Regions from separate parts of the Homo sapiens genome. Here all the other regions are linked to region 6. The links come from fine-mapping of genetic effects on gene expression. A gene starts in region 6. Each other region holds a variant in brackets. All regions are shown on one strand. Distances are between the middles of the regions.

Region 1 (4,067 bases), 200 kb before region 6:
CCCACCTCCATCTTCTTTCAAGAATTTCTCTATCTTTGGCCTTCTGTAGTTTGAATATGATGTACCTAGTTGTAGGTTTTTGGTATTTACACTGCTTCCTCTTCTCTGAGATTTCTGGATCTGTGGTTTGGTGTCTATGATTAATTTTGGACCTCCAAGTGGAGGTTGCAGTGAGCCAAGATCACACCACGGCACTCCAGTCTGAGCGACAGATCAAGACTCTGACTCAGAAAAAAAAAAAAAAGCCGGGCACGGTCACTCACGCTTGTAATCCCAGCACTTTGGGAGGCCGAACCACTGCGGCCGGCCCCATCTCTTTTTTTAAAAAAGGATATCAACATTATGGATTCATTCATTTATTCAACAGAAATTTATTGGTTCTTGGAAATGTTCCACTTTCCCAACCACTTGGAATACTTTAGTGAACAAAACTGACAAATTCCATGCTCTCCTTAGCCTTACATTTTAATGAAGCAAGACAATAAATTGAAAGCATAATCAGGAGATTATATCTTATATCCTAAGTAGATAAATACTATAGGAATATACATACTTGCATACATATTTATACACATTATCAGACCAGCAGCTTAGGAAGCTTCTGGTGTGGAGGGAACACTTGGCAGGGTAATTTTCTCATGAGTCCTCATATGGCGGTGGTATGTGGATGACTGGCGGTAGCTTGTCTTACAAAAGGGACATGTATAAGGCTTTTCTCCTGTGTGGATTCTCTCATGAGACCGCAGGTTGGTTTTGTGGCTGAAGGACTTTTTACACATGCTGCATGTGAAAGGCTTCTTTCCTGTGTGAATTATCTGATGCACCCGTAGGTCTGATATCTGGAAGAAGCCTTTTTGACACTCGGGACAAACAAATGGCCTCTCATTCCTGTGTCTTCTCTGGTGAGCTAATAAGTGACAGAGATACTTAAAGACCTTGGGGCATTCTTCACATTTGTATGATTTTTGGACTCCATGGGATCCTTTCTGATGTACCTCACATGTGGAATTTCCCTCATTGCTCTGGTGGGTAAGGGCAGACTCAGGGGAGGACTGCTCTGGTTGAGAGATACACCCTGCTCCCATCACCATAGGGACACCTTGGAAAGTGATTCCATTTATGGACCCTTCCTGAGATCTAGCAGTGACTAGCTCTGCTCTTTTTGAGTTGTATGGGTTGTCAGAAGAAACACCTCCCTCTTCAGGCCTAGGACCGTTCTCTTCCTGGATGATGATTAGGGAAACTATTTGATTGCCTTGATTAGTAATATTTTCATTTACTCGAGTAGTTTTCGAAGAACTGTTCCAGCCATCTTGTTCATCTTCATATCCTGTGAAAATAGACACTCAATGAAGTTGTACTTAAGAAGGGGTCCACATAGAACACTCCTCAGTTGTGCAGATTCACCTGACTTACCTTGTCCTGTTTCTAAGGAAGTATCTTGGGAAGTCTGGGAGGGTGTCCCCATGTTTGCTTCTCTTGTGGTTTGGGCATTCACTTGTTTTGTGAGATGAACAATGACATCTCTTAAGGGCATATCCTCAGAAAAGAGAGCTTCCTGTCCCTGCATGTGGACGTGGACCTGTAAAGAAAGCCAGATCACTGTTGTATCTGAATCTGTTGTGTAACAGAAGACTTTTTGGAAAAGTGGTCCTTAACAGGCTCTCACAAGCTCCCTCAAGTATTGGCTATCACATATTTTGTCCACCATCTCTGATGGTGTTATTCTTGTTACTACAAGCTCTTATGTTTAATAAAGTCACATGGACATTGAATTTACAAGTACTGAATCATTTCCCCTAGGAAAAATTCAGGGTTAGTTTCCTGTGAGCTTCTGGCTACATTATTTTTGTCAACTGATCAATACATGAGTTTGTTTTATGTGTGTATATGTTCAAAGACACCCCATTTAATATATATTATTGATTAATCCTGAACTCAGAGGATCCAACACATGTATTATCTCCATAATACATAGCAACTTTCCTGCACTTAGGAAGACTAGACAGTGTTTCAGCATTTTACTTCAGTGTCACTTTAAACAACAAAGTTATCAATAAAAAGCAAAAAAAAAA[AT/T]GTGCCACTAAATAGACTGTGAAAAGGACACTTATTTACACTGTAGGAACCAAAATAGGAAGTGAGGTTGTGGCCTTGTTCAACCTCACCTGGAAACATGCACCTAAGGTAAATCAAATATTTTACCACCTGCACATATCTGAAAATGACGGAGAAGATGCCTCAGGTATTTATTTTAAGCTTACAAATAAATTTTAGCAATTTTGCAAATATGGGCTCTGAGAATAAGGATCTACCGTAATTGCTTCTTTAGAATGTCTTTCTTGATTAGAGTTCCCTGACAGAAGAACAAGCTCTTGTCAAGACATTTCTTCCTCAACCTTGATGTCTTCATTTAAATGTCAATTTCAGGCTGGTCTCACACCTGTAATCCTAGCACTTTGGGAGGCCAAGGCAGGCGGATCACTTGAGGCCAGGAGTTCGAGACCGCCTGGCCAACATGGTGGAACGCTGTCTCTATTAAAAATACAAAAATTAGCCGGCCTTGGTGGAGCACGCCTGTAATCCCAGCTACTCTGGAGGCTGAGCCACGAGAATGACTTGTGCCTGGGAGGCATAGGTTGCAGTGAGCTGATATCATGCCAAAAAGTCAATTTCTCAGAGTCTGCCATTATGCAGACTAAAATTAAGTTAATCAAACATCAATATGTTTGGCTCCTATATGTCCTACAGAATAAACAGATATATACCTTTTTGCTTTTTTTCTTGAGAACTTAGGACATTGAAGATTATTCTTTGTGAGAATGGTGGGAGAGTGTGAGCTGACTAATAACTGGACCTCCAATAGCTTCTCTAACTTCCAGACAACTCTAACTGACTGTGATTTATTCCTTACTTTCCTTTGTCTCTCATCCCAGAAGTTAGAACCCTGTACTCACTAAGGCAGGTGGATTTATGCTGTCATCAGTCAGGTCTTCTATGAATCTCTCCAAGTTTTTGCCACTTGATTTCCATTTCTCTTTCACACTGGCTTTGTCATTGCAGTGGCCACCAATCATAAACTGCTCCAGGACTAATAGAGAAATAATTTCATCCTTGCTGTGCTTTTCTGGTTGCAGCCATGAGTGAAAGATCCTATAAAGTCTTTGCAATTCCTGCCTTGCATATGAATTATTGCTGTCTTGAAATGAATTGAGCACCATTCTTGAGAACTCAGAAATCCCTTCTTCTCTCTGAACAGCAGGTCCTTGGCTTTGTTGAAACGCTGAATTTTCTGATCCAAGATTATTCTCGGATGGTTCACACTGAAATATGGTTCTTAGATCTAAAGCCATTCTTAGCAATAATTCTCAGAGAGACTTTACTTTGATGATTCAGTCTCTTGCCTTGTGTCTCTAGGGATTTGTTTCAACAGTTGGTGGATTCTTTAAAACTGCAAGCTAGAAATAGAAAAGAGATGAGTAATTAATTGCACCACTGGCATAATTAAAGACAAATCAACCAAAAAGTTAGGCCTACATGGCTCTATGGATGAATTCAAAGAAATAATTATAACTTAACATAAACTCTCCCAGAGCATATAAGAGGAAGCACTACCCACTTTAGTTACTGAGGTCAGCACTTCCTGATAACAAAATTTTACAAATACATTAAAATTATCCAAAACAAAATATTTGAAAATAAAATCTACTCACATATACATCGCAAATGGTGTTCATTTCCAAAATGCAGGAAGTTTGGGTTAAAATTCAAAAATCAATGCAATTTACTTCGTTAACGGGATATGGATACAAGAACATAATAAAATCATCTCAATGAATGCATTTAAAATGTTTAAATGCCAATGTTTATTCCTGAAAAAGGCACTTAATAAACTAGAACTATTAGGAAATATCCTTGGCTGGGCACAGTGGCTCACTCCTATAATCCCAGAACTGTGGGAGGCCGAGGAGGGCGGATCACTTGAGGTCAGGAGTTCGAGACTAGCCTGGCCAACATGGTGAGGCACCATCTCTACTAAAAATACAAAACTTGCCGGGTGTGGTTGCTCA
Region 2 (4,067 bases), 580 kb before region 6:
TGTCTCTGCCTGTGCGGATTCACAGTCAGCCCAACACTGTGTTTCCAAGTGAAGTCGGGAGGAGAAAAAGAAAAAGGCAAAAACTTTTAAGGCTTTTGCTTGAAAGGGGACGAGTGTCCGACAACAATGAGTTGGGGACGGGTGAGAAGCCGAGTCCGAGGCTGGCTCCCCGCTGTGACGTCACCGCCTGCCCACACTCTGCTCCAGCCTAGCAGGAGAGGCGGGCCCACTCTTTGGAGACCATCTGATCCTTCCTGGCAGACCAGAAAGCCAGATTTTTATGGTTTAAACAAATGTTGGCATCTATCTAAAAAAAAAATCCTTCTGTAAGTCAAACAAAATACAGGCAGGTCAGTTTTGGTCAGGCCTAAAGACTGCGCCTGAAATCCTCAGAGACAGGAAGCAGATTCTGGTTGTCAGGGCGGGCAGGAATGGCGAAGGCGTGCTGAGGACTGTGGGCTCTCTTTCTGGGCAAGACGAAAACATCTTTGGAGCTAGAGAGTGCTGGTAGTTGCACAGTGTTGTGAATGTGCTTAATGCCACTGAACTGTTCATTTTTAATGACTGAAATGGTAAATTTTATGTTGCATGTACTTTACCCAAAAAAGGAAAAAAACAAAACCCTGTTTATCTGTTAGGTTCCAAGGGGGCTAAGCTGGCAGGAGGGCAGCCGGGGTCAGCTGTACCCTTCTCTGGAGTTGGAGCTGCCCAGGCCGGCTCCCACCCTCATGGCCTCAGGGATATCCACAGTGAAATGAAAACCCAGCGGCAGAAGCTGCCGCTGAGTCAGGTGCTAACAGGGAGACCTGGACAAGGCTTCTGAAAGATGGGACGCGAATGAAACTCCTCTTCAAGCCACTTGCAAAACTATAGTGCGCAGGACTGACCAGGCTGTGCTGTGGAACTGCTGCTTCTCAGCTGAGACCCTGGGAAGCCCCATCCCGTGCTTGGCTTCGGAGCAGGTGTCCAGGGTCTTCCGAGAAACAGCTTGTGTCCTTCAAGAGGAGTCCCAAGGTGGCCAGGGGTTGGTGGGGCTGGGGGATGTCCCCCATCTTCTGGGGCCCATCAGCTCCCCCCAGGGACTCAGGGCCGGGTGGCCGAGGCCCGAGGCTGGCCATTCACATGTGGCCGTGGGCCGTGTGGAGCTTCTGGTGGTCAATGAGGTGGACCATCCAGGGGAAGGCCTTCCCGCAGACGCTACACTGGAAGGGTCTTTTGGGGCTGCGAGGGGCCACTGGGCCCTGGGCTCCATCCCTGGGTGGGACGGACTCCCGGGGGCCCTTGCTCCGGGGGGCTTTCTTCCTCGGTGGCTCCAGCAGGTGGATCTTGCCATGCTCAGTGAGGACGGAGTTGTGCAGGAAGACCTTGCCACACTCGGGGCACGGAAAGGGCCCTTCCTCGCGATGGGTCTTCTGGTGCTCGATGAAGTGGGTGACCCAGGTGAAGACCATCCCACAGTCGGCACACTGGAAGGGCCGCCCACCTCGGGGCCCACGCGGCACTACCGAGATGCCTGCAACAGCCTCTTGGGTACCACCTTTGGTGTGCTTGAGGGATGGCTGGTGGCGGCCGCTCTGGTCAGTGTTCCTGTTTCTCCTTCGGGGACTGATTCTCTGAGCACTTGGACCCTTGGGGCTCGAGATCACAGTCCCTTCTGCCCGCAGGTCTGAGGAGGGCCCTGCGAGAAGGTCCTCAGGCTCGTCCCAGATACTCGGCTTCAGAGGCAAGCGGGCCCGGGACCCTGTGGAGGGCGAGGGAGATGGGTCACCTGTAGTGAGTGGATGGCCTTGGCATCTCCCTGTGCTCCCCAGGGGCACGGAGGACCCCAGTGACTGAGCCAAGT[C/T]CAGGCCCTTCCTCTGCTCAATACGGCCCCTGTGTCCTCCGTTCTGTCCTTTAAGATACAAGGGCACATGTGGCCGGTGCAGTGGCTCATGCCTGTAATCCCAGCACTTTGGGAGGCCGAGGAAGGTGGATCATGAGGTGAGGAGTTAGACACCAGCCTGACCAACATGGTGAAACCCCGTCTCTACTAAAATACAAAAATTAGCTGGGCGTGGTGGTGTGCGCCTGTAATCCCAGCTACTCAGGAGGGTGAGGCAGGAGAATCGCTTGAACCCAGGAGGCGGAGGTTGCAATGAGCCAAGATCACACCACTGCACTCCAGCCTGGGCAACAGAGCAAGACTCTGTCTCGAAAAAAAAAAAAAAAGGCACATGTTTTGGGAGCAGATCCCACAGCACTGGCCCTTGTTCCTACCTGGCTGGCCCTCTGGGTAACCCCGTGCTCCAACACTCTCAGACTGTCTGCCTTGGCTGCCGTTCAGGTGCGGAGGCTGAGGCCCTTCTCGTAGGGTGAACGATGTACATGGTGGTTCTAGGGGCCCCAGATCTCAGTCCTCACAGGAGGTGTGCATGCTTTCTGGGGGAAGTGTGGAGTTCACCACCGAAGCACCCAACTCAACCCATTAACAAAGTCTGTGGCTTTGGGTTGAAGTCCCAAACTCCATTTCCAACCCTTAATCCACACAGGAGCCAGACTCACCCAGCAAGCCAGGGGCGCGGGGCGCTTCGGCCTCCGCCCTGGTGTGCAGACTCTGCTGGAGCTGGGTAGTCTCCAGCCACTCACTTTCCTCGGGGAGTGCTGGGGCTGCTGCCACTGCATCCAGAATCAGCTCAGACGCCTAGAATGGCAAGCACAGGACTGTTCGGCAGCTGCCCCTCAGGAGCCATCCTCCCCACCACCACCGAACAACCAAGGAACGGGCGTCATCCCCAAAGGCTCTGTCCCAGGGCAGTGCGCGGTGTCGCGCCTGTTGTTCCCGTGCTTTGGGATGCTGATGCTGGAGGATTGCTTGAGGCCAGGAGTTTGGGACCAGCCTGGGCAACACAGCAAGACTCTGCTTATACAAAAAATAAATAACCACTCCTAAAGAGCTCTTAACAGGACCTGAGACAGAATTCGAGGGGCCCCTGTACAAAATGGAAATGCAAATCCCCTTGTTCAAAGATCGTTGATCATTTCAGGACAGTGACAACAGAGCATTAGATGGAGCCAGGGGACCTGTGCCACAGCTCGGGTCACTGTTACAAGCTGGGGCTCCTAACTCCCGTCCCCCAAGGCTGCACTGTCCTTGCCCACAAGCCCAGAGGAAGTGGGCGACTTCACAGACTTCACATCCCACCTGCGACCTATGACCTCTGATGCACCTAACCGTGTCCCGCCCAAAGCGGGGATCACCACTTCCTGGGAGGAGACTGAGCTGTGGTTGAAGAGCAAGAATTCGAAACAGAGGGGCTTGGCTTGGTGTCCAGGCTCCAGCCCTGCTTGTTGTGTGGCCCTGGATGAGGAGCTTTAGCTCTCTGGGTTTCCAGTGAGGATGTGGGTGCTACGTGCCCAGAGCCTGGTACCATCAAGGGCTCGGCAAACTGCAACGGAGTCGTGTCAAAGGAAAACACAGTGACACTTATCAATGCAAATCAGGTTGTTGGAGGAGGTATGTTGAGTCAAACAAAGCATCAGAAAAGACCAGGAGTCAAGCACGCACTGACAAGGTCTGTCTTGAGTGGGTCTTCGCTTTCTGCTGCCCCAACCCTACCTGGATGCACAGGGGCCTAAGGAAGCTGTCCAAGATTCCCAATAGCTGGGCAAAACTGGAGTAGAGGGATTGCTGGGCTAGAGACGGAGGAGGGAGGGAGGGAGGGAGGGAGCTGATGGCAGGAAGGGAGTTAAGGCACAAGATTCTTCCTGCTCTCACGTTGGGAGTATGTGGATGGTGTGTTTGGCTGGGTTATTGATTTTTATTTCTTATCAAATGCTAGTTTTGATTGTAAAACATGTTGAATTCTGAAATCGTAACCAGAGGAGCCACCATCTATAGGAGTAAAGGCGGGACTCCCTTTTACGCCTCTTCCTGGTACCTGGCTACTGGGGGCCATTGTGGACAGTCAGGCTCTTCCCTACTTCACCCACCTTGGCGTCTGTGACTAATCAAGGGCAGCAGAGGGGCTGCGTGGAGAGAAGAGTGGGTGGCATGTATGTGTGGAGAGAGGGGCATGCTTAGTTCCCCT
Region 3 (4,067 bases), 94 kb after region 6:
CCTCTGCTATATGGCCCCATTCCTAACAGGCCATAGTACTCATCTGTGGCCCCAGGGGTTGGGGACCCCTGATTTAGAATGTATTTCAGATAAACAACAAATAATTTTATGATGAGTATGTCACATACAATATTTATCTTTTATCTCACTGCACATATACATAGGGAATTAGAAATAATTCAAATTTAACCAGGTCAAGTATCAGTTACAAAATTTGACAATTCTTTTCATCGTAATTTTTTTCTGAACCTATGCATTATATTGAGCATCCTCATTTTTGAACCTAGTAACTCATTCACAGAATTTCTGCTACCCTTCTTCTTTTTTCTTTTTTTCTTTTTTTTTTTTTGAGACAGAATCTTGCTCTGTCACCCAGGCTGGAGTGCATTGGCGCGATCTCAGCTCACTGCAACCTCTGCCTCCCGGCTTCAAGCGATTCTTCTGCCTCAGCCTCCTGAATAGCTGAGATTATAGGCGCCCGCCACCATGCCCGGCTAATTTTTTTTTTTGCCCTGTCGCCCAGGCTGGAGTGCAATGGCATGATCTCAGCCCACTGCAACCCCCTCTTCCCGGGTTAAAGCAATTCTCCTGCCTCAGCCTCCCGAGTAGCTGTGATTACAGGCACGCACCACCACGCACAGCTAATTTTTTGTATCTTTAGTAGAGATAGGGTTTCACCATGTTGGCCAGGCTGGTCTCGAACTCCTGACCTTATGATCTGCCTGCCTCGGCCTCCCAAAGTGCTGGGATTACAGGCTTGAGCCACTGTGTCTGGCCACTTCTTCTTAATTGTAAATTCTGCTGGTTGGGGGCCCTTTGTTCCAAGGAAGGAGAGGTTCCACCAGAAGTAAATATTATTACATTTAATTGAAGGGTGATACAGCTACTTGTTCATCTGGGGATCCTTGTGTCACTTAAGCAAGAAGGGATTGCTTTTTTGCTTTGGATGAGTTAGGCTGAGTTGCTGCCATGGAATGGGAAGCATAGAGAGTTATGTCTGAGACCAGGGGATTTCTGGGGGATGTTTTGGTAAGTTCATGTTCAGAAATAAAACTAGCAACTCATCGAAGGGAGGACTTCTAAGAATCAGAAGTTTAGGTTTTGATATTTGGGGACATCCTCCAGGTTAAAAAACAAACAAAACCAAAATGCTACCCAGCTGAAGATCCGGCAGAGGCAGAAGAATGGGATGGTGGGGGGAGGGGGGAGCGGGGAGGAGAATGAAAAATCAATTTTCAACCTAAGACCAGTTAAGAAAACAAGAAATCTCAATATTATAGCTATCTTCCTTGTTTACATGTAAGAAATTGACTATAGAAATCAACAATGGCCAAGCCAAATATAAAACAGAACTCTAACCCACTACTGCACTGACCAGCTCAGGAAGCCAACCTGCTATCTACACTAACCAGATGAGGAAATCTCTCTCCCTCTCTCTCTCTCTCTCTCTCTCTCTCTCACTCAAGAGTTTTAAGAGGACAGATTTATCTCAGGTCTAAAATTCTGCCTTCTTTTGTAGTGCATTACCTGATATCATTGGTTTTGGGGGGTACCAGAGATTACTTTGTCCTGTGAAAGAACTTGACGTTTTTGTGCGTAATGGCTGTCACAAGCAAGAGCTGCAGTGTCAGAAGCAGCTGGTGGCAGTTGTTTACAGTAAATGGTTATTACGACAGGAGGCTACTCATTTCTTTGCATGTTTAGATATAAAAGGCATGCTCTAAACACTTACAAAAATGTCTTTACATCAACGTGCTCTATCAAAGTATTGTGCAGCCCAGTGCCATGATGTTTACTATGTGTTTTTTGTGAAGAAGCTTATATTTAAAAAATGAAGATGTGGTTTTTGCTAAAGAAAAAGTAATTCTGGGCCGGGCGTGGTGGCTCACGCCTGTAATCCCAGCACTTTGGGAGGCCAAGGCAGGCAGATCATCTGAGGTCAGGAGTTCGAGACCAGCCTGGCCAACTTGGTGAAAACCCGTCTCTACTAAAAAAAAATACAAAAATTAGCCAGGCGTGATGGTAGGTGCCTTAATCCCAGTTACCTGGGAGACAGAGGCAGGAGAATTGTTTGAACCCGGGAGGCAGAGGTTACAGTGAGCCAAGATCGGGCCATTGCACTCAAGCCTGAGGAACAAGAGTGAGACTTCTCTCAAAAAAAAAAAAAAAAA[AG/G]AAAGAAAGAAAAAAAAAGGAATTCTGTCTAGTTTAGGGGTTATGTAAAGGTCGTTTCAAAATGAAAGGAAAATAATGTAGATAAAAGTAAATAGATCTAGGACTGGGCGTAGTGGCTCAAGCCTATAATTTCAGAACTTTGGGAGGCTGAGGTGGGTGAATCACTTGAGGCCAGGAGTTTGAAACCAGCCTGGCCAACATGGAGAAACCTCATCTCTACTAATACAAAAATTAGCCGGACATGGTGGTGTGTGCCTGTAATCCCAGCTATGTGGGGGGCTGAGGCACGAGAATCACTTGAACCTGGGAGGTGGAGGTTGCAGTGAGCCAAGATCAAACCACTGCACTCCAGTATGGGTGACAGAGTGAGATTCTGTCTCAAACAAAGGTAAATAGATCTAAAAATTGGGGAAAGAGAAAAATAGAAAAAAATTTGTAAGAAGGTATAAAAGGTTTACGGAAAAATCTTACCTTGTGTGGTCAAAACCTGATTAAAATTGGATGGATTTGTTTATAAGACTTTATTCAAATTAGCTTTAGTATTGACAATACACAAATATAAAAATAGAATTTCGGCTGGGCGCAGTGGCTCATGCCTGTAATCCTGGCACTTTGGGATGCTAAGGCGGGCAGATCACAAGGTCAGGAGATTGAGACAATCATGGCTAATATGGTGAAACCCCATATCTACTAAAATATAAAAAATTAGCCGGGCGTGGTTGTGCGCACCTGTAGTCCCAGCTACTCAGGAGGCTGAGGCAGGGGAATTGCTTGAACCCAGGAGGCTGAGGTTGCAGTGAGCCGAGATCACATCACTGCACTCCAGCCTGGGCAACAGAGCAAGACTCTGTCTCAAAAAAAAAAAAAAAAAAAAGCTGGGTGCGGTGGCTCCACCTCTAATCCAAGCACTTTGGGAGGTGGAGGCAGAGGCGGGCGGATCACGAGGTCAGGAGTTTGAGACCAGTCTGGCCAACATGGTGAAACCCCGTCTCTACTAAAAATACAAAAATTAGCCAGGCAAGGTGGTGCACACCTGTAATCCCAGCAACTCAGGGGGCTGTGGCAGGAGAACCACTTGAACCCGGGAGGCAGAGGTTGAAGTGAGCCAAGATCGCACCATTGCACTCTGGCCTGGGCAACAGAGTGAGACTCCATCTCAAAAAAAAAAAAAAAAAAAGTAGAAGTTCATTTTCTATTTTGAACACAATTTACATATATTAATAAGAGATAATAAAGTTTTTTCTTTAACTTTTGAATAATCCTCAATTTAAAAATGGGTGGAGGATGAAAAACCTTTGATTCCTTAGTGGCCAAATGGCCATACATGGTATGGAACTGTGGCTGTCTGTGCTCAGTTACTAAAGGTAAGAGTTACCATGGAAATTTAGAGATGGATCCAGCTCCCAGGGAGTTGGTACACTGGATGCATAAGAAAATGCAAACTAATATGCAAAAAGCAAAATATTCAATCTCTGGTTCACTGGATGCATAAGAAAATGCAAGCTAATAAGCAAAAAGCAAATTACTCAATCCTTTGTTATCTATAACAGCTAAAAAAAAAAAAATTAGAGAGTGCTGGGTCCAAACTTGATGCTAGATCAAGCTTAGATTTCAGTCCATCTGAACGAAAGCCACCAGCCAGCCTAAAAGCCACCTCCCACCAAGGGCAGAATCATTTAGGGACAACAGAAAATGCCTCTGAGACCTACGGCTACCAAGAAGGTAGTCATTGTGGGGAAGAACAAAACCAAGTAACTATTCAAACCAGAGAGTATAATGTGAAGAACTTGTTTTACTTTATAGATTGAAGTAGTCAGTTTCCTGAGGAACCATTACTAAAATGGATTGTGAGAGTTAACTAATTAAGGGACAGCATCTTTGGTTTTAAATGCTGC
Region 4 (4,067 bases), 29 kb before region 6:
TCAATTGCCAGCTCCCTCATAAAGATCACCCTCAGAGTTTCTGGGTTTTTTTTGTTTTTTTTTTTTTTTTTTGAGACGAAGTCTCACTCTGTCACCCAAGCTGGAGTGCAGTGGCGTGATCTCGGCTCAATGCAACCTCCGCCTCCCGGGTTCAAGCAAATCTCCTGCCTCAGCCCCCCAAGTAGCTGGGACTACAGTTGCCTGCCACCACGCCGGGCTAATTTTTTTTTTTTTTTTTTTTAGACAGAGTCTCACTCTGTCACCCAGTCTGGAGTGCAGTGGCGTGATCTCAGCTCACCGCAAACTCTGCCTCCTAGGTTCATGCCATTCTTCTGCCTCAGCCTCCTGAGTAGCTGGGACTACAGGCGCCCACCACCATGCCCAGTAAATTTTTGTATTTTTAGTAGAGATGTGGTTTCATTGTGTTAACCAGGATGGTTTCGATGTCCTGACCTTGTGATCCGCCCGCTTCAGCCTCCCAAAGTGGTGAGAATAACAGGTGTCAGCCACCACGCCTGGCTGTTTCTGCTTTAAGTCAGGTCATATTGATTCAGCGACAGTCTAAGGCCTTTCTCCAGTCTAAACTTTCTGGTGTTGAATACGGTTAGGCCTTTGGCTGAGGCCTTTTACCATATTCACTACATTGTCCACTCTGTGAACTGTCCAGTGTTGAATGAGTTTGGAGGTATAGCTAATGGATTTCCATTAGTAACCTTCAAGACTTTTTTACACTGTGAACTTTCTGGTGTTGAATGAGGTTGAAACACCAGCTAAAGGATTTCTCACAATCATTGTATTTCTCCAGTGTGAATCCTTCGATGTTTAACAAGACTGGAGCTGTGGCGAAAAAATTTCCCACATTCCCTGCACTCATAAGGCTTTGCTCCAGTGTGAACCCTCTGATGTTTAACAAGGCTGGAATTCTCACTAAAGAATCTCCCACATTCATTGCACTTAAAAGGTTTTTCTCCAGTGTGAACTTTTCGATGTTGCATGAGGCTTGAGCTTTGGCTAAAAAATTTCCCACATTCACTGCACTCATAAGGCCTTTCTCCAGTGTGAACACGCCAATGATTGATAAGGCTGGACTTGTGGCTATAGAATTTTCCACATTCACTGCACTTATAAGGTCTTTCTCCAGTGTGAACTCTCTGATGTTTCATGAGGCTGGAGTTGAAACTAAACAATTTTCCACATTCACTGCACTCATAAGGCCTTACTCCAGTGTGGATTCTGTGATGCTGAACAAGTGTGGAATTATGCCTGAAAGCTTTTCCACATTCACTGCATGTAAAAGGCTTTTCTCCAGTGTGAACTCTCTGGTGTTGAATGAGGTCAGCATTACGGCTAAAGGATTTTCCACAGTCACTACACCCATAAGGCCTTTCTCCAGTGTGAACTATTTGGTGTATAAAAAGGTTGGACTTATGGCTAAATAACTTCCCACATTCACTGCATTCATAAGGCTTTTCCCCAGTGTGCAGTCTCTGGTGCTGAACAAGTAAATATTTCTGACCAAAGGCTTTCCCACATTCACTGCATTTGTAATGCCTTTTTCCAGCATGAAAGGCCTCCCTACTTTTGGAGCTCCTATGTGACTTCTCTCCCGTGTGAGTCACCTGGTGCTTGAGAACACCTGAGCTGGTCAGAAGATCCTTCCCAACTTCCCTGCTTTGCAAGGACTTCTCTGATAGGTGGACTCTGCAACTCCTCAAAACTGGGACCCTGCCCTCTTGTCTTTTTAAGGGTTTCTCTCCACAGTGCTGCTTCTGGTGTTGCTGAACGTTTGAACTGGGCACTTCTACAGAAGCACTCTGCTCAGCAGCTGCCTCAGCCTTGGCTCCTTGCCAACTACCTGAAAGAAGAGAAATGTTGATGAAGTAAATGTAGTCTTTGGTGTGAGAAGGCAGCACTCTCACACGTGTCTGACACACCTGGTAATTAGCGTGTGGGACTGCTTGCAGAATGAGGGGGCTAGCGCTTGGTGGGGAAGGGCCTGCTGTGCAGTGCTGAACCTGGCTAGCTCACAGATTTGGGGAGGCCTCATGAGCACCAAGGATGCAAGGATGTGGTGTAGCACAAGGAGGAGAGGCAGAGTCCCCAACACAATCCTCTGCAAATGGCTTTCCACAGGGTTTTGGCTGCTGGAGACACAGGAACACGGCACAGAAGGTTATATCCAGGTCCAGAAAAAAACAACTGCAGGATGGGCGCGGTGCCTCATGCCTGTAATCCCAGCACTTTCGGAGGCCAAGGCGGGCAGATCACGAGGTCAGGAGATCGAGACCATTCAGGCTAACATGGTGAAACCCAGTCTCTACTAAAAATACAAAAAATTAGCCAGGCATGGTGGCGGGCGCCTGTAGTCCTGGCTACTAGGAGGCTGAGGCAGGAGAATGGCATCAACCTGATAGGCGGAGCTTGCAGTGAGCCGAGATCACGCCACTGCCCTCCAGCCTAGGCGACAGAGCAAGACTCTGTCAAAAAAAAAAAAAAAA[AAC/C]AACTGGAATGAAATAGTTGGTGTCCAAGGACTATGCAAGAATAAGCGCCCCACCTCACCACACATTCAGTGAAAGCCACTGCTGAAAGGTGCTGCTGAGGATGGGGTGAAACATGGAGTACAGAGAGGTGGGGAATGGCCCTGGGTCAACTATCAGAATAGATATAAATGGGTGACTGAGGAAGAAAAGATAGAAATCAGCGACGACACCTTGCCTTGGTATCAAAATATCTGGGCCCACTGGAAAGACTCCTGGTATGATACAAACCCATACCCGAGTTCATACCTCCCTGAGCTCCACCCACCAAGTACCTCTCAGTATGGCTGAAGTCACAACTTCCCAAGCAGGCATGAAGGGCTCCTCCCATGACTCCAGCTGGGTTATTTCATGGGTCTTGGAAGATGCAAGTCCTAAGGAAAACGACAGGTGAGTGGCAGCACTGAGCCAGAATGACTTATCTCATCATGGACCACAGGAAAGAAAACAAAATAGTACAGAAAGAACCTTGGAGGAGGGTCTTGCAGGAACAACCCAGTCAAACAGCAATCACATTGGTGACTCAATTGCTGGCACAGACCGACACCCAGGTATGTTGGCTAGAGGAGACAGGCAGAATGTAGGGGAATAGAACTACCACAGATCTGCACAGTGTCACCAGGCCACAGAGAGGCCACCAGGGATAAGATCCATCAAGCTGACTGCAAGACTCCTGACCCCCAAACCCTTTCCTGCACAGCTGTGGGGCAGCTCAGGGAGAGAAGGTGGTAGTATACACAGCCCAGGCCTATTACAATAGCTACTTCAGGATACTGGAGAAGGAATGAGTGCCCACAGTTCAGCTTTGGGAAGAACAGACCTCTCCCTAGGAAAAGGAGGAAAAGCCAAGTCCAGCTCAGGATGCTGGGGTGGGGTGTGAGAACCTTACCCAGAGAGGCCAGAAGTGTAAAGTTCTCCAGCATCACATTGCGGTAGAGGAGCCTCTGAGCGTCATCAAGCAATCTCCATTCCTCCTGGGAGAAGTAGACAGCCACGTCCTCAAAGGTCACATAGCCCTGCTAAGATGGACAGAGTTGAGTTTATCTGCGGTCTCCTTACTGGGGAATTTAGGCATCCCCCTAAACATCCACCCCTGCTCACCCTCTTCCTTAATCCCCATCTCAGAAGAGAGACCCTGCCCCAGAACCACTGATGCCCACTCTCTCCTCATGTTCCCACTGAGCAAGCAGAGGCAGGTAGGCAGATAAAGTCCATCTCAGCTCTGGGCATGGTATGCAGAGTCCTACTCTTCTCTTGCCAGACAACTCACCTTGGATCCCCCAGATTGTGTTTCCCAAATACAATCAAATTTGTGTCAGTGTTCTCCCTGAAGCACCCAATACAAGGTCCCTGGGGACATCTGTTTACACTCATTAGAATGTGCACATACTCTGTACCACAACCACTGCCCCCTGCACCACCTTATGTGCCTCCCCTAGCGTCACCACATTCTAGTCTACACATGGCATCCAGAGGGCACTCACCAAATGCAATCAGAACTCCATCCCTTCCTAGACCTCCAATGGCACT
Region 5 (4,067 bases), 22 kb after region 6:
TTTCTTTTTTTTTTTTTTTTGAGACAGAGTCTCGCTCTGTCGCCCAGGCTGGAGGGCAATGGTTTGATTTCAGCTCACTGCAACCTCTGCCTCCCAGGTTCAAGCGATTCTCCTGCCTCAGCCTCCCGAGTAGCTGGGACTAGCACGCGCCGCCATGCCCGGCTAATTTTTGTATTATTAGTATTTTGTATTATTAGTAGAGACAGGGTTTCACCATGTTGGCCAGGATGGTCTCCATCTTGGCCTCCCGAAGTGCTGGAATTACAGGTGTGAGCCACTGCACCCGGCCTAAAATTTGTTTCAATGCATCAATAACAATGGTGTTTACTAAAATATTAGTGTGGAAAAGGTTTTATGGTGTATTATTTTTGCTTTTCATATCTCCAGGCTACTTAATTGAAGGTTTTATTGAAATAAGTGTAGACTCACAAGCAGTCATAAGAAATAATACAGAAAAAGCCCTGTCCATATTACCCAGGGTTCCGTCATGATTACATTTTGCAAACTATAGTATAATATCACTCTAATGATATTGACTCTTCTGTGTTCTGTTTTTATATATTTCCCTAGTTTTGCTTGTATTTACTTGTTGCATGTGTGTAAGCCCTGAGTTTTATAGGTTTGATTTGTGGATCTGTTGTGCGGTTGAGCCCTCATTCATTCACCTGCTTCTCTGCAGTTGGACACACAAGCAATTGCCTTTGCACGAACAGGGACAATCTTAATTTCTGTTTAAGATGAGAAAATATGGTTGGAGACACATTAAAACTTCTGTCTCCACTGATGACAAGATACTTCTTTCTGCTTTTTTATTCTACTGATTCTTCAGACCTCAATGAAAATCAACATCCCCTAGATTTTGATGAAATGGCTTTTGGAAAAGTAAAATCAGGGATTAGCTTCCTCATTCAGACTGGAGTTGGGATCCTGGGAAATTCCTTTCTCCTTTGTTTTTATAACTTAATTTTGTTCACTGGACACAAGCTGAGACCCACGGACTTGATTCTCAGCCAACTGGCCTTGGCTAACTCCATGGTCCTTTTCTTTAAAGGGATACCTCAGACAATGGCAGCTTTTGGATTGAAATATTTGCTGAATGACACTGGATGTAAGTTTGTCTTTTATTATCACAGGGTGGGCACAAGAGTTTCCCTCAGCACCATCTGCCTTCTCAATGGATTCCAAGCCATTAAGCTCAACCCCAGTATATGCAGGTGGATGGAGATCAAGATTAGATCCCCAAGGTTTATTGACTTCTGTTGTCTCCTCTGCTGGGCCCCCCATGTCTTGATGAATGCATCTGTTCTTCTATTAGTGAATGGCCCACTGAATAGCAAAAACAGTAGTGCAAAAAACAATTATGGATACTGTTCTTACAAAGCATCAAAGAGATTTAGCTCATTACATGCAGTCTTATATTTTTCCCCTGATTTTATGAGTTTGGGCTTCATGGTCTGGGCCAGTGGCTCCATGGTCTTCTTCCTCTACAGACACAAGCAGCAAGTCCAACACAATCACAGCAACAGACTCTCCTGCAGACCTTCCCAGGAAGCCAGAGCCACACACACCATCATGGTCCTGGTGAGCTCCTTTTTTGTTTTCTATTCAGTCCATAGTTTTCTGACAATTTGGACAACTGTAGTTGCAAACCCAGGCCAGTGGATAGTGACCAACTCTGTGTTGGTCGCCTCATGTTTCCCAGCACGCAGCCCTTTTGTCCTCATCATGAGTGATACTCATATCTCTCAGTTCTGTTTTGCCTGCAGGACAAGGAAAACACTCTTTCCTAATCTGGTTGTCATGCCATGAGTCTTTTCTCTTCATGGAATTCAGCTATTTATCATAACTCTTGCTAAGATTTAGGAAATATTAACTACTAGTTATTTGTGATAGCAACATACACATGGCCAGTAATGCTCTTGTCCAGGAAGATCTAATACCAGAGCTAAAAATGAAAGTCATGGATACTGTTACACAAAGAACACTCTATATAACTGTGTTAAGTCCTTCAGACAAGTTCAGGAAATCAAAAAGTTTAAAAAGGGAATTCTTTAGAGATTTAGGGGAGATTTCTCATTTTTGTACTATGAAGAATCATGGAATGTTTTAAAAATATTTTTAAAGCACAGTTTGATTCAG[G/T]TGCTTCTTGAACAGCATAAATCCCCTGGAGAGTCCACATGTAAGAAAGACATGTGCAGGCCGGGCACAGTGGCTCACGCCTGTAATCCCACCGTTTTGGGAGGCTGAGGCACTCCCAAATGCCTCAAGTGATCCACTCAAGATGACTTGAGGCCAGGAGTTCGAGACCAGCCTGGCCAACATGGCAAAAACCCTGTCTCAAATACAAAAATTAGCCAACCATGTGGCACACACCTGTAGTCCCAGCTACTCCAGAGGGTGAAGCACGAGAATTACTTACCAGCTTGGGTGACGGAGGGAGACTCAAAATAAAAATAAAAATAACTAAAAGTGGCTGGGCACCGTGGGTCACGCCGGTAACCCCAGCACTTTGAGAGGCTGAGGTGGGCAGATCACTTGAAGTCAGGAGTTCAAGACCAGCCTGGCCAACATGGTGAAACCCCATCTCTATTAAAAATACAAAAATTAGCCAGACATGGTGGCAGGTGCCTGTAATCCCAGCTACTCAGGAGACTGAGGCAGGAGAATCCTTGAACCCAGTAGGCAGAGGTTGCAGTGAGTCGAGATCCCACCACTGCACTCCAGCCTGGGAGACAGGGCAAGACGCCGTCTCAAAAAAAAAAAAAAAAAAGAAAGAAAGAAAGTGCTTCTGCACTCCAGCCTGGACAATAGAGCAAGACTATCTAAAAAAAAAAAAATTAAAAATCAATATCAAAATAAATGAGTATTCTCATAAGCAAGACAAGCCTAAAGAAATGTGAGTACTAACTGTAATGTGGTTACATTTAGAGACACATGAAAAAAAATAAATAAAAGAATAAAAAATAATAAAATAAATGCAATGTGGTATCCTAGGTGGAATTCTGGAACAGAACATGTATTTTGGTAAAAACTGAGGAAATCTCAATCAAAGATGTACTTTAGTTTAATAATGTATCAAAACTGTTTCACTAATTGTAAATAATGCTGTATACTAATATATGACTATATATTAGTAACAACTAGGTGTGCTTGTAAATGAGATATCTCTGTACTATATTTGCAATTTCTCTGTACATCTTAAAATGTTCTAAAATTAAAACTCTATTAAAATAGAAAAATAAGATTTTTTTTTAAAAAAAGGGAAAAGATTTAGAAATTTGGCCAAATATACAGATAACAAATAAGCATATAAAAACTTATTCAGCATCATTAATTATTAGAGAAATGCAAATTTAAAAACCACACTGACCACAACACATCTATGAAAATGGTTAATCTTTAAAATACACCATAACCATCATGGACAAGGAGGTATAACAAATGCAATTCTGCTAAATATATTCATATAAACACTTGTATATGAATGTTCATGGGTCTTTGTTAGTTTTTTAGTCCAACACTAGAAACAATCAAAATATTTATTAATAGATTAATAAATTGTGGTATATTCAATGCAATACTCTTCATCAACAAAAAATGAATACGCTTAACATGTATAAATATCAAAAAATGCTCCATATGAATGTAATGTAGGATTTCATTTGTATAAGATACTAGAAAATTTATAGGCCGGGCATGGTGGCTCACGCCTGTAATCCCAACACTTTGGGAGGCCAAGGCAGGTGGATCACTTGAGGTCAGGCGTTCGAGACCAGCCTGGCCAACATGGAGAAACCCCCGTCTCTACTAAAAATACAAAATTAGCCAGGCGTGGTGGCGCATGCCTGTAATCCTAGCTACTCAGGAGGCTGAGGCAGGAGAATCGCTTGAACCCAGAAGGTGGAGGTTGCGGTGAGCTGAGATCGTGCCATTGCACTCCAGCCTGGGCAACAAGAGTGAAATTCTGAGAAAGAGAAAGAAGAGAAGAGAGGAGAGGAGAGGAGGAGGAGAGGAGGAGAGGAGAGGAGAAGAGAAGGAGGGAGGGAAAGAAACAAAGAAAAAAGAAA
Region 6 (4,067 bases):
TTACAAGGACAGCTCTAGATGTAGTAGAACACTTGCCTGACAGATTGTCTCCACTAATGAACTGGTGTTAACCTCTGCCATAAACATCTGTGACCAATGTTCTTTTTATCTCAAAACAAATTATATATACTTTTCCCTTTTGCCTTTGAAAGCTTCTCCTTGTTTCAAGCTCTCTGGATATGCCTATAGTCCCTATAGCCTGCATGTCCTGGATTTGCAAATCCCCTGTGCATTCCTGAATGAACTCAACATCTTTGAAGAATCTCTGTTATTTAGGTTGACAGTTTAAATATATCCTACATTGTGCTTTTCTTTGCCTCACTTCTTCCACTTATTTTACTATTATTTTACCTTTCTATTGATTATTTATTTATATTCCAAACATTTCCTCTTCTAGTTTGAAAAGTATATACGCTGACTGTATTTATTATATTTAGGCTAAAAATTACAAACGTTTAACACATTAGCGTGCCATACAGGATTGTAATACATTTGCTTTCCACTTGGAAATATAAAAAATTTAAAACTTTGAGCAACTAGCCTCCTTTCAATTTATATGTAGTTGAGGTTACGCACGGGAATTCCATCATTCTAACTCAATAAGTATATCTACTTATGTTTTACACTGTAATATGCTGTTATTTTAATCAAAAGATGCACTTCTTTTCATCTTCATTTCTTCTCTCATTGCAGACTTTTCACCTGAGATCAACTTTCTTTGGCCTTGAGTATTATTTTAAACATTATTTTTTGTGTAAATGTATTTCCATTACATTTATCATTTTTGGTTTCAAATAGTTTTATATCACACTTCCATAAAAGACATTTTGTTGTGTATAGACATCTAGTTTGGTGGTTATTTCTTCTTTACAGAAAGTGTTCATGTTGCCCTTTTCATTGCCATATGACATTTGATGAATTCTGTCTTTTCAGACACTTGTAAAACACTTAAAATATTGAATACATCTCTGTATATGGAGTATGAAATACTATCTTGAACAAGAGTATTACTTGTTGGGTTTGACACAATCACTGCTGTATAAGCAGGATAAATATTTTCTGAGGTAACAGACAGAAGGGTTATTCACTTACTTCAAGGCCACCAAACATCCCCACTCCACGTTCCACATCATGGTGTCTGGAGTCTTTTCTTTCTTGTGCCTGACAGAAAATGCTGAGGCTCGCCAAACTAACTCTGGAGCATCAGGCTACACGCATTTGAAAACAATATTTGTTAACTTCCAGCCATAGAAATCTGAGTGACGTCAGTGTATGGTGTGTCCATTTTATTTTTTGATGAGCATTCTCTGCGTAAGGAAGGCTGAAATCATGTCTCTAAACATTCCTTTGATGTCAAACACGACGTTCACCAGAAATACAGATATGGCTCCTTCAAGAGGAAGCTAAGCTCCGTCTGGGCCTTGGAGACGAGGGACACCATTTCCACGCGCCCCTGGCGGTCTTCTCTGGGCTTTTAACCTGGAGGTGAAGCGAGACGCCGCTTACTAGTGTTGGTGCCGTGGGAACTACATTACCCAGGAAACTTGGCGGCTCTGGGCCAATGAAAACCCAGGAAATAGGCGTTTCCGTTGGTCCTCACCAACGTCAGGGCGGGACTTCCTCTACCATCCTCGGGTGGACATTTTGTTTGCTTTTCCATTAATCCACTGGTTTAGTTTCCAGAACGCAATGTCAGACCTGAGGTGACAGAAAAGGGAAAACGTGAGAGAGTGTCTTCTTCCCTGAAGAGAGGTGGGCCTGAGGCTTGACAGTGGCGCTGCCTGAGTGACCTAGCCGCTGGGCTGGGCCCTGGACAGCTGATCCCAGGTTCCTGCACTTGTCGCCACCCTTCCGTAGTCCACAGGCCTGATGGCGGCGGCTGAGCCGATGGGCCCGGCACAGGTGGGTGCTGCGTCTGCGAGTCTGCGCGCTGACCCCCATCTCTGAATCCCAAAGCTTCGAATGAACGATTCCTCGGGTTACTGCAGCTCAGGCCCCTGTATCTAGAACAGTGGGGGCGCTCGTGTTTGGGACCCATTTTGACAGCACGAGTTGAAGGACGTTCCAGGCAGAGAGACCAGTGTATGCAAAGGCTCAGAGATGGTTCACAGCTGGAGCATTTGGGAAAACTGGGCCTTTAGTGTCTGAAAGGATCAGAGCGCTTTATAAGTGATTGCACCTGGAATATCATCCTGAGCAGCTGGGTCTCTATTCTGAGGGTGATGGGAGCCATGGAAGGTTCTGAACAGAGGAGAGCCAGAATCCGAGGGTTTAAAAAGTATTCCATAGACTGCTCATGGAGGGCAGACTCTTGTTGGCCATGGGGGCGGATAATGAGCACTGTTCCGAGCTAACACAGTTAAGAGGTATCCTTGAAGATGGAAGCACAGAGGGTAGACATTCAGCTCCCAGGCACATTGTAACTGGGTAGGAATATGGGATGGGGTTGAGCCTTTGGGGTTCCTTCAAGATTGCTTGACTCGCATAGTCTCCCTCTTCCCCACAGGTTCCCATGAACTCAGAAGTAATTGTGGACCCTATACAGGTGAGGGGAGAATGTCCATGCTCTCACCGATCCCACCCCCACCCAATACGCTCTCCAGCATTGTGGTGTTATATAGAACACTCTCCTGCTACTCTCCGATCTCTTGGGTCTGAGGACTCTGGAGAAGCCCCAAGCCCAGGGTCCTGACTCCGGGCCAGGGGTTTTATGGAGGGGTTTCCATTTCTGCCAACCATTGGAATAAGGTTGGAAGGTTGTTCCAGGCACAGGAACCAGCCTGTGCAAAATACTTAGAGGTGAGACTGAGAAGGGAGTTTTCAAGAAATTGCAGGTCTCTGTCATGTCTGGTGGGAACCAAGAGCAAGGGGGCGGGAATCATCCTGAAATGGCTTAAAGATGATTATGTAGATTGGGAGTTAAAAGAGAATATTCATTTCACAGTGGTAGTGCATTTAGTGAGCCAGGAAAGTGATGGTGGAGAGCCAGAGTTGTGAGATAACTGTGATCCAAAGAGTGATGTACATATGGAAAGAAGTGTAGACTGATGACGTCTGGGCTTAAAGGAGAAAGGCAAGCCCATCTTTGGTTGTCTGGTAAGCATGATGTTAGTGACCCCAGAGGAATTTGCTTACAGAAGGGTGAGGCCCTGTATGCTAAGCACAGAGCTTAGAGGGTGACAACTTCTTCACCTGCCTGTGGTTGCTATGGGTAGACACAGTGATCCATTGGGACCATGAGGCGAGAGAAGACACCAATGACATCTGGTCCTGATATTTCCTGAGTTGAGGAGTTAGGTAGGAGGGTGTACAGGAGGGAGATGTGTGGGGGCACGGATGGGGGTTCTTGGGAGAGATGCTGCTCATGGACTTGGCTCTCCTGATTGTGGCAGGGGCAGGTGAACTTTGAGGACGTGTTCGTGTACTTCTCCCAGGAGGAGTGGGTGCTCCTTGATGAGGCTCAGAGGCTCCTGTACCGTGATGTGATGCTGGAGAACTTTGCACTTATGGCCTCTCTGGGTAAGGCCGTCACATCCACCCCAGTGACTTGGACTGGGTCCTGCCCTTCCCCTTTTTTTCAGGGCATCTTTGTCCTTCCTACATCAGAGCCGTGGACACTGTCTCATTTCTTAGTGCCTGGAGTAGGTTCTGTGAGTGCTGGGCTTGGGCTGTTTGCACTCCTACTTTCTCCTTTTGAGCATTCCCAGCGCTTGCTGTCTCAGAGCCTTGCAGGCATGGATTCAGGAGTTATGCATTGTATTGTCAGCCCAGTGGGTCATATCCATCTTGTCCTTTCCCTGTCTGAATTCCTCTGTCTGTATCCATGACACCTCTGTGCCTGGGATTCTGCGCTCTTCCTTTAGCTGACATTTCCTGTGGCCTGCCTATGTCAGGAATTGTAGGGACCATTATGGTCGCTACTTGCTAGGACCACTGCACTATTCCTGCAAGACCTTACTCTGAGATTATTTTAATAATATTTAGTTTTCTATATGGGTTACCCAGACCAGTGCTGTTCTATCTTTCCCTTAGGACATACATCTTTCATGTCCCACATAGTTGCCTCA
Region 7 (4,067 bases), 32 kb after region 6:
TAATTTATTACTAAAGAAAAAATTAATTTAGAGTAGCCTAAGTGTACAATGTTTATAACATCTACAATAGGGTACAGTAATGTCCTAGAGCTTCACATTCACTCACAACTCACTCCCTGACTCAACCAGAGGGGTCCCGCAAGCTTCGTTCATGTTAGTGCCCTATAAAGTTTTTACCATTTTTCATACATTTTTACAGTACCTTTTGGAAACTTAGATATGTTTAGATACACATTTACTTATCATTGTGTTTCAATTACCTACAATATTCAATACTGTAACATGCTGTTAAGGTTTATATCTGAGGCGCAATGGACCATATCATATAGCCTAGGTGCGTAATAGGCTGTGCCCTTCAGGTTTGTGTAAGTACACTCTTTGTTCACACAATGACAAAATCACCTTAAGATGATTACTCAGAACACAGTCCTCTTGTTAGGCGACACATGACTACAATGGGATTTTATTCGGCCTTTAAAAAAGATGAAAATCATAAGCTATGCTACAACATGGATAAACCTTGAAGACATTTAGGGAAATAAGCCTCAAAATAAGTCACAAAAGACTAAAACTTAAGTTTCCTCATATGAGATATTTATAGTAAAATTCATACAGTAGTATTGTCAGGGGCTGGTTGGCGTAGGGAATGAGGAAGAGGAGTAGTTTAAAGCAGCGGTCCCCAACCTCTTTGGCACCAGGGACTGGTTTCATGGAAGCCAATTTTTCCACGCATCAGGGACAGAGGAGGGGGCAGACAGTTTCAGAATAAAACTGTCCCACCTCAGATCATCAGGTATTAGTTAGATTCTCATAAGGAGCACACAACCTAGATCCCTCACAGGCACAGTTCACAATAGGGCTCAGGCTGCTATGAGAATCTAATGCTGCTCATCTGACAGGAGGTGAAGCTCAGGTAGTGATGCTGGCCCGGTTCCTAACAGGCCACAGACTGGTACCAGTTTGCAGCCTGGGGGTTGTGGACCCCTGGTTTAAAGGGTATAATGTTTTAGTTTCATTAAGTTGAAAAAACTTCTGGATATTAATTGACAACAATGCGAATGACTTAACACTACTGAACAGTACAGTTAAATATGGGTTAAGATGGTAGATTTTAAGTTACCTGTAATTTGCCACAATTATAATTTTTTTCTTTTTGAGACAGAGTCTCGCCCTGTCACCCAGGCTGGAGTGCAATGGAACAATCTCAGTTCACTGCAACCTCCGCCTCCCAGGTTCAAGTGATGCTCCCTGCCTCAGTCCCCTGAATAGCTGGGATTACAGGCACCTGCCACCATGCCCAGCTAATTTTTGTATTTTTAGTAGAGATGGGGCTTCACCATGTTGGCCCGGCTGGTCTCAAACTCCTGACCTCAGGTGATCCACCCACCTCTGCCTCCCAAAGTGCTGGGATTACAGGCGTGAGCCACCACGCCTGGACATAAATGTTTTTAATGTAGTTCCCAGCAGGAAATCCTCGCAGATTTCCATCTGAACTCTTTCAACATTAGATTTACATATATTAATAGGTTCTTGGTCCGATGTGAACCTTTTGGTGCTGAATGAGGTGACAGTTTTGGTGACTTTCCTGCATTCACTCCACTAAGGCCTTTTTCCAGTATGAATT[A/C]TCTGATGTTTAATGAGGCTGGAGTTGTATTTAAACACTTTGCTGGATTCACCACACTCATAAGACCTTTCTCCAGTGTGAGTTTTTTGGCGCTGACCAGTATTACATTTGTTGAAGTCTTTCCCACATTCCCTTAACTTAAAAGGACTTTCTCCAGTGTGAGACTGCTGATGTATAATAAGGCTCGATTTAGTCCTAAACAATTCCCTACATTTACTGCACTCATGAGGCTTCTCCCCAGTGCAAACTTTATGATGTTTAATGAATGTAGAGCGGTATCTAAGAAACTTCCCACAGTTGCTGCATTCATAAGGCTTTTCTCCAGTATGAACTCTCTGATGAATAATGAGTTTGTAGCTATCTCTAAAAAATTTCCCACATTCACTACACTCATAAGGTCTTTCTCCAGTGTGAACTTTCTGATGTCTACTCAGTGTACAGCGATATCTAAAGAATTTCCCACATTTGCTGCATTTATAAGGCTTTTCTCCAGTGTGAATTCTCTGATGAATAACAAGTTTGTAGCTGTCCAAAAAGAATTTCCCACATTCATTGCATTCATAACGCCGTTCTCCAGTCTGGATTTTCTGGTGACCATCTAGATGAGCCTGTGTAAGGAAGGCCTTCCCACATTCACTACACACATAAGGCCTTGGCCTGAGGTCAATCCTCTTGTGTTGAATGAGGTCAGACCTTTTTGAAAATGCATCAGTGTGGATTTTCTCATGCTGAACTAGGTGGGACTTTCTAACAAAGGCCTTCGCACATTGAGTGCATTCATAAGGCCGTTCTCCAGTATGGATTTTCTGGTGACCAACCAGATGAGCCTGTGTAAGGAAGGCCTTCCCACATTCACTGCATGTATAAGGCCTTGGCCTAATGTCAATCCTCTTGTGTTGAATGAGGTCAGACCTTTTTGAAAATGCATCAGTGTGGATTTTCTGGTGCTGAACTAGGTGGGACTTTCTAACAAAGGCCTTCTCACATTCAGTGCACTCATAAGGCCGTTCTCCAGTATGAATTTTCAGATGCTGAACAACATTATGTTTGAGGCTAAAGGCTTTCCCACATTCGCTACACTTATAAAGCCTTTTGCCAGCATGAACTCTCTGGTGCATATTGAGTGTGGAGCGGTGACTAAAGAATTTTCCACATATGCTGCATTCAAAAGGCCTTTCTCCAGTATGAACTCTCTGATGTCTACCGAGTGTGAAGCTGTCCATAAACAATTTCCCACATTCACTGCACTCGTAACGCCTCTCCCCAGTGTGAACTTTCTGATGTCTGATGAGTTTGGAGTTATACATAAAAAACTTCCCACACTTGTTGCATTCATAGGGCTGTTCTCCAGTATGGGTTTTCTGGTGACCAACCAGATGAGCCTGTGTAAGAAAGGCCTTCCCACACTGGGTGCATTCATAAGGTGTTGGTCTACTGAGAATCTCCTGATGTTCAATGGGGTCAGACCTTTTTGAAAGAAAGCCTTCACTGTGAATTTTCTGGTGCTGAACTAGGTTGGACTTTCTAATAAAGGTCTTTCCATATTCAGTGCCCTCATAAGGCCTTTCTCCAGCATGATTTTGCTGATATTTAATAAGGTTGGAGTTGTACCTAAACAATTCCCCACATTCACTGAACTCATAAGGCCTCTCCCCATTATGGGTTTTTTGGTGCTCAAACAGCCCATGTTGGTGGCAAAAGTCTTTCCCACCTTGGCTGGAGTTGAAATCATTCTGTTCACCTTGAAAGGCTTCCCCATCCTGGGTATCCCTGTACAGCTTCCACCCACTGTTTAAGACCTGTTGCTGGAGAAGGTCTGAGCTGGCAGTAAAATCCTTGCCACCCTGCGTGCATGTGAAGTTCCTCTCTCCCACGTGAGCACTGTGGTTCACAAATGAAGGCCTCCACTCATCACTTCTGGTGAGCTTCTCTCTAATCTGCTCCTTTTGGTGCAGGTCATGCTCTGCTGCACATGTGTACAGCCCTTGCTCAGGGTGTGTTCCATCGTGCTCAGCCAGGTGCAGAATGTCCTTCAGAATTGAGCTACACATCTTGCAGGGCTGGGCCTTCAGGGTGGACAAAGCTGGCTTTGGAATTGTGACCTGTAACACTCTTACAGAAACACACTGCTTGGAAGGTACCTCCTCATCCTTGGCTCCATGCCAACAACCTGTAAGAACAGAAATGCTGGTGAAGTGCACGTGAACTCCGGAGGGAGGAGACAGCCCCATCACAAATGTCTGTGAGACACACCCACAAATGAGGGCACAGGACTGGTCACAGGCAAGGAAATAAGGCCAGTGAGAGGAAGGCCCAGTGTTCAGAGGTGGGCCTGTGAAGTGTGTGTAGTGGGGGAATCCTGGTGGTAAGGACACAAGGGAGAAGTACCATGCAGGGAGGGCAGGTGGGGTCTCCAACTCACTCCTCTATAAATGGCTTTCAA

Evidence for each region.
Region 1: its variant is fine-mapped to the expression of ZNF772 in whole blood (INTERVAL, PIP 0.98).
Region 2: its variant is fine-mapped to the expression of ZNF772 in whole blood (INTERVAL, PIP above 0.99).
Region 3: its variant is fine-mapped to the expression of ZNF772 in whole blood (INTERVAL, PIP 0.98).
Region 4: its variant is fine-mapped to the expression of ZNF772 in naive CD4 T cells (Schmiedel 2018, PIP 0.95).
Region 5: its variant is fine-mapped to the expression of ZNF772 in whole blood (INTERVAL, PIP above 0.99).
Region 7: its variant is fine-mapped to the expression of ZNF772 in whole blood (TOPMed, PIP above 0.99).

The regions. Positions count from the first base shown.
Region 1 is chr19:57,675,429-57,679,495 of GRCh38, reverse strand. It overlaps ZSCAN4 (zinc finger and SCAN domain containing 4), which reads right to left. Exons shown (of 5, transcript NM_152677.4): 3 at 2,955-3,455; 4 at 1,417-1,582; 5 at 344-1,330. The coding sequence starts at 3,350. The coding sequence ends at 591. Among named protein-coding and RNA genes, the nearest start is that of ZNF551, 4.5 kb to the left of the region's middle. The variant AT/T (reference allele first, on the strand shown) is at 2,076.
Region 2 is chr19:58,051,103-58,055,169 of GRCh38, reverse strand. ZSCAN1 (zinc finger and SCAN domain containing 1) reads right to left here. Exons shown (of 6, transcript NM_182572.4): 5 at 2,542-2,680; 6 at 539-1,741. The coding sequence ends at 1,119. Among named protein-coding and RNA genes, the nearest start is that of ZNF135, 6.1 kb to the left of the region's middle. The variant C/T (reference allele first, on the strand shown) is at 1,844.
Region 3 is chr19:57,380,646-57,384,712 of GRCh38, reverse strand. No RefSeq gene overlaps it. Among named protein-coding and RNA genes, the nearest start is that of ZNF548, 7.2 kb to the left of the region's middle. The variant AG/G (reference allele first, on the strand shown) is at 2,172.
Region 4 is chr19:57,504,146-57,508,212 of GRCh38, reverse strand. It overlaps ZNF773 (zinc finger protein 773), which reads right to left. Exons shown (of 4, transcript NM_198542.3): 2 at 3,427-3,556; 3 at 2,813-2,911; 4 at 1-1,855. The coding sequence ends at 789. Among named protein-coding and RNA genes, the nearest start is that of ZNF773, 6.2 kb to the right of the region's middle. The variant AAC/C (reference allele first, on the strand shown) is at 2,499.
Region 5 is chr19:57,453,167-57,457,233 of GRCh38, reverse strand. It overlaps VN1R1 (vomeronasal 1 receptor 1), which reads left to right and starts at 94. Exons shown (of 1, transcript NM_020633.4): 1 at 94-2,444. The coding sequence starts at 748. The coding sequence ends at 1,809. The variant G/T (reference allele first, on the strand shown) is at 2,140.
Region 6 is chr19:57,475,112-57,479,178 of GRCh38, reverse strand. ZNF772 (zinc finger protein 772) reads left to right here and starts at 1,613. Exons shown (of 4, transcript NM_001144068.2): 1 at 1,613-1,902; 2 at 2,507-2,545; 3 at 3,393-3,519. The coding sequence starts at 1,870. RefSeq lists enhancers at 1,099-2,298, 1,889-2,412.
Region 7 is chr19:57,443,018-57,447,084 of GRCh38, reverse strand. ZNF749 (zinc finger protein 749) reads right to left here. Exons shown (of 3, transcript NM_001023561.4): 3 at 1-3,794. The coding sequence ends at 1,600. Among named protein-coding and RNA genes, the nearest start is that of ZNF749, 9.7 kb to the right of the region's middle. The variant A/C (reference allele first, on the strand shown) is at 1,625.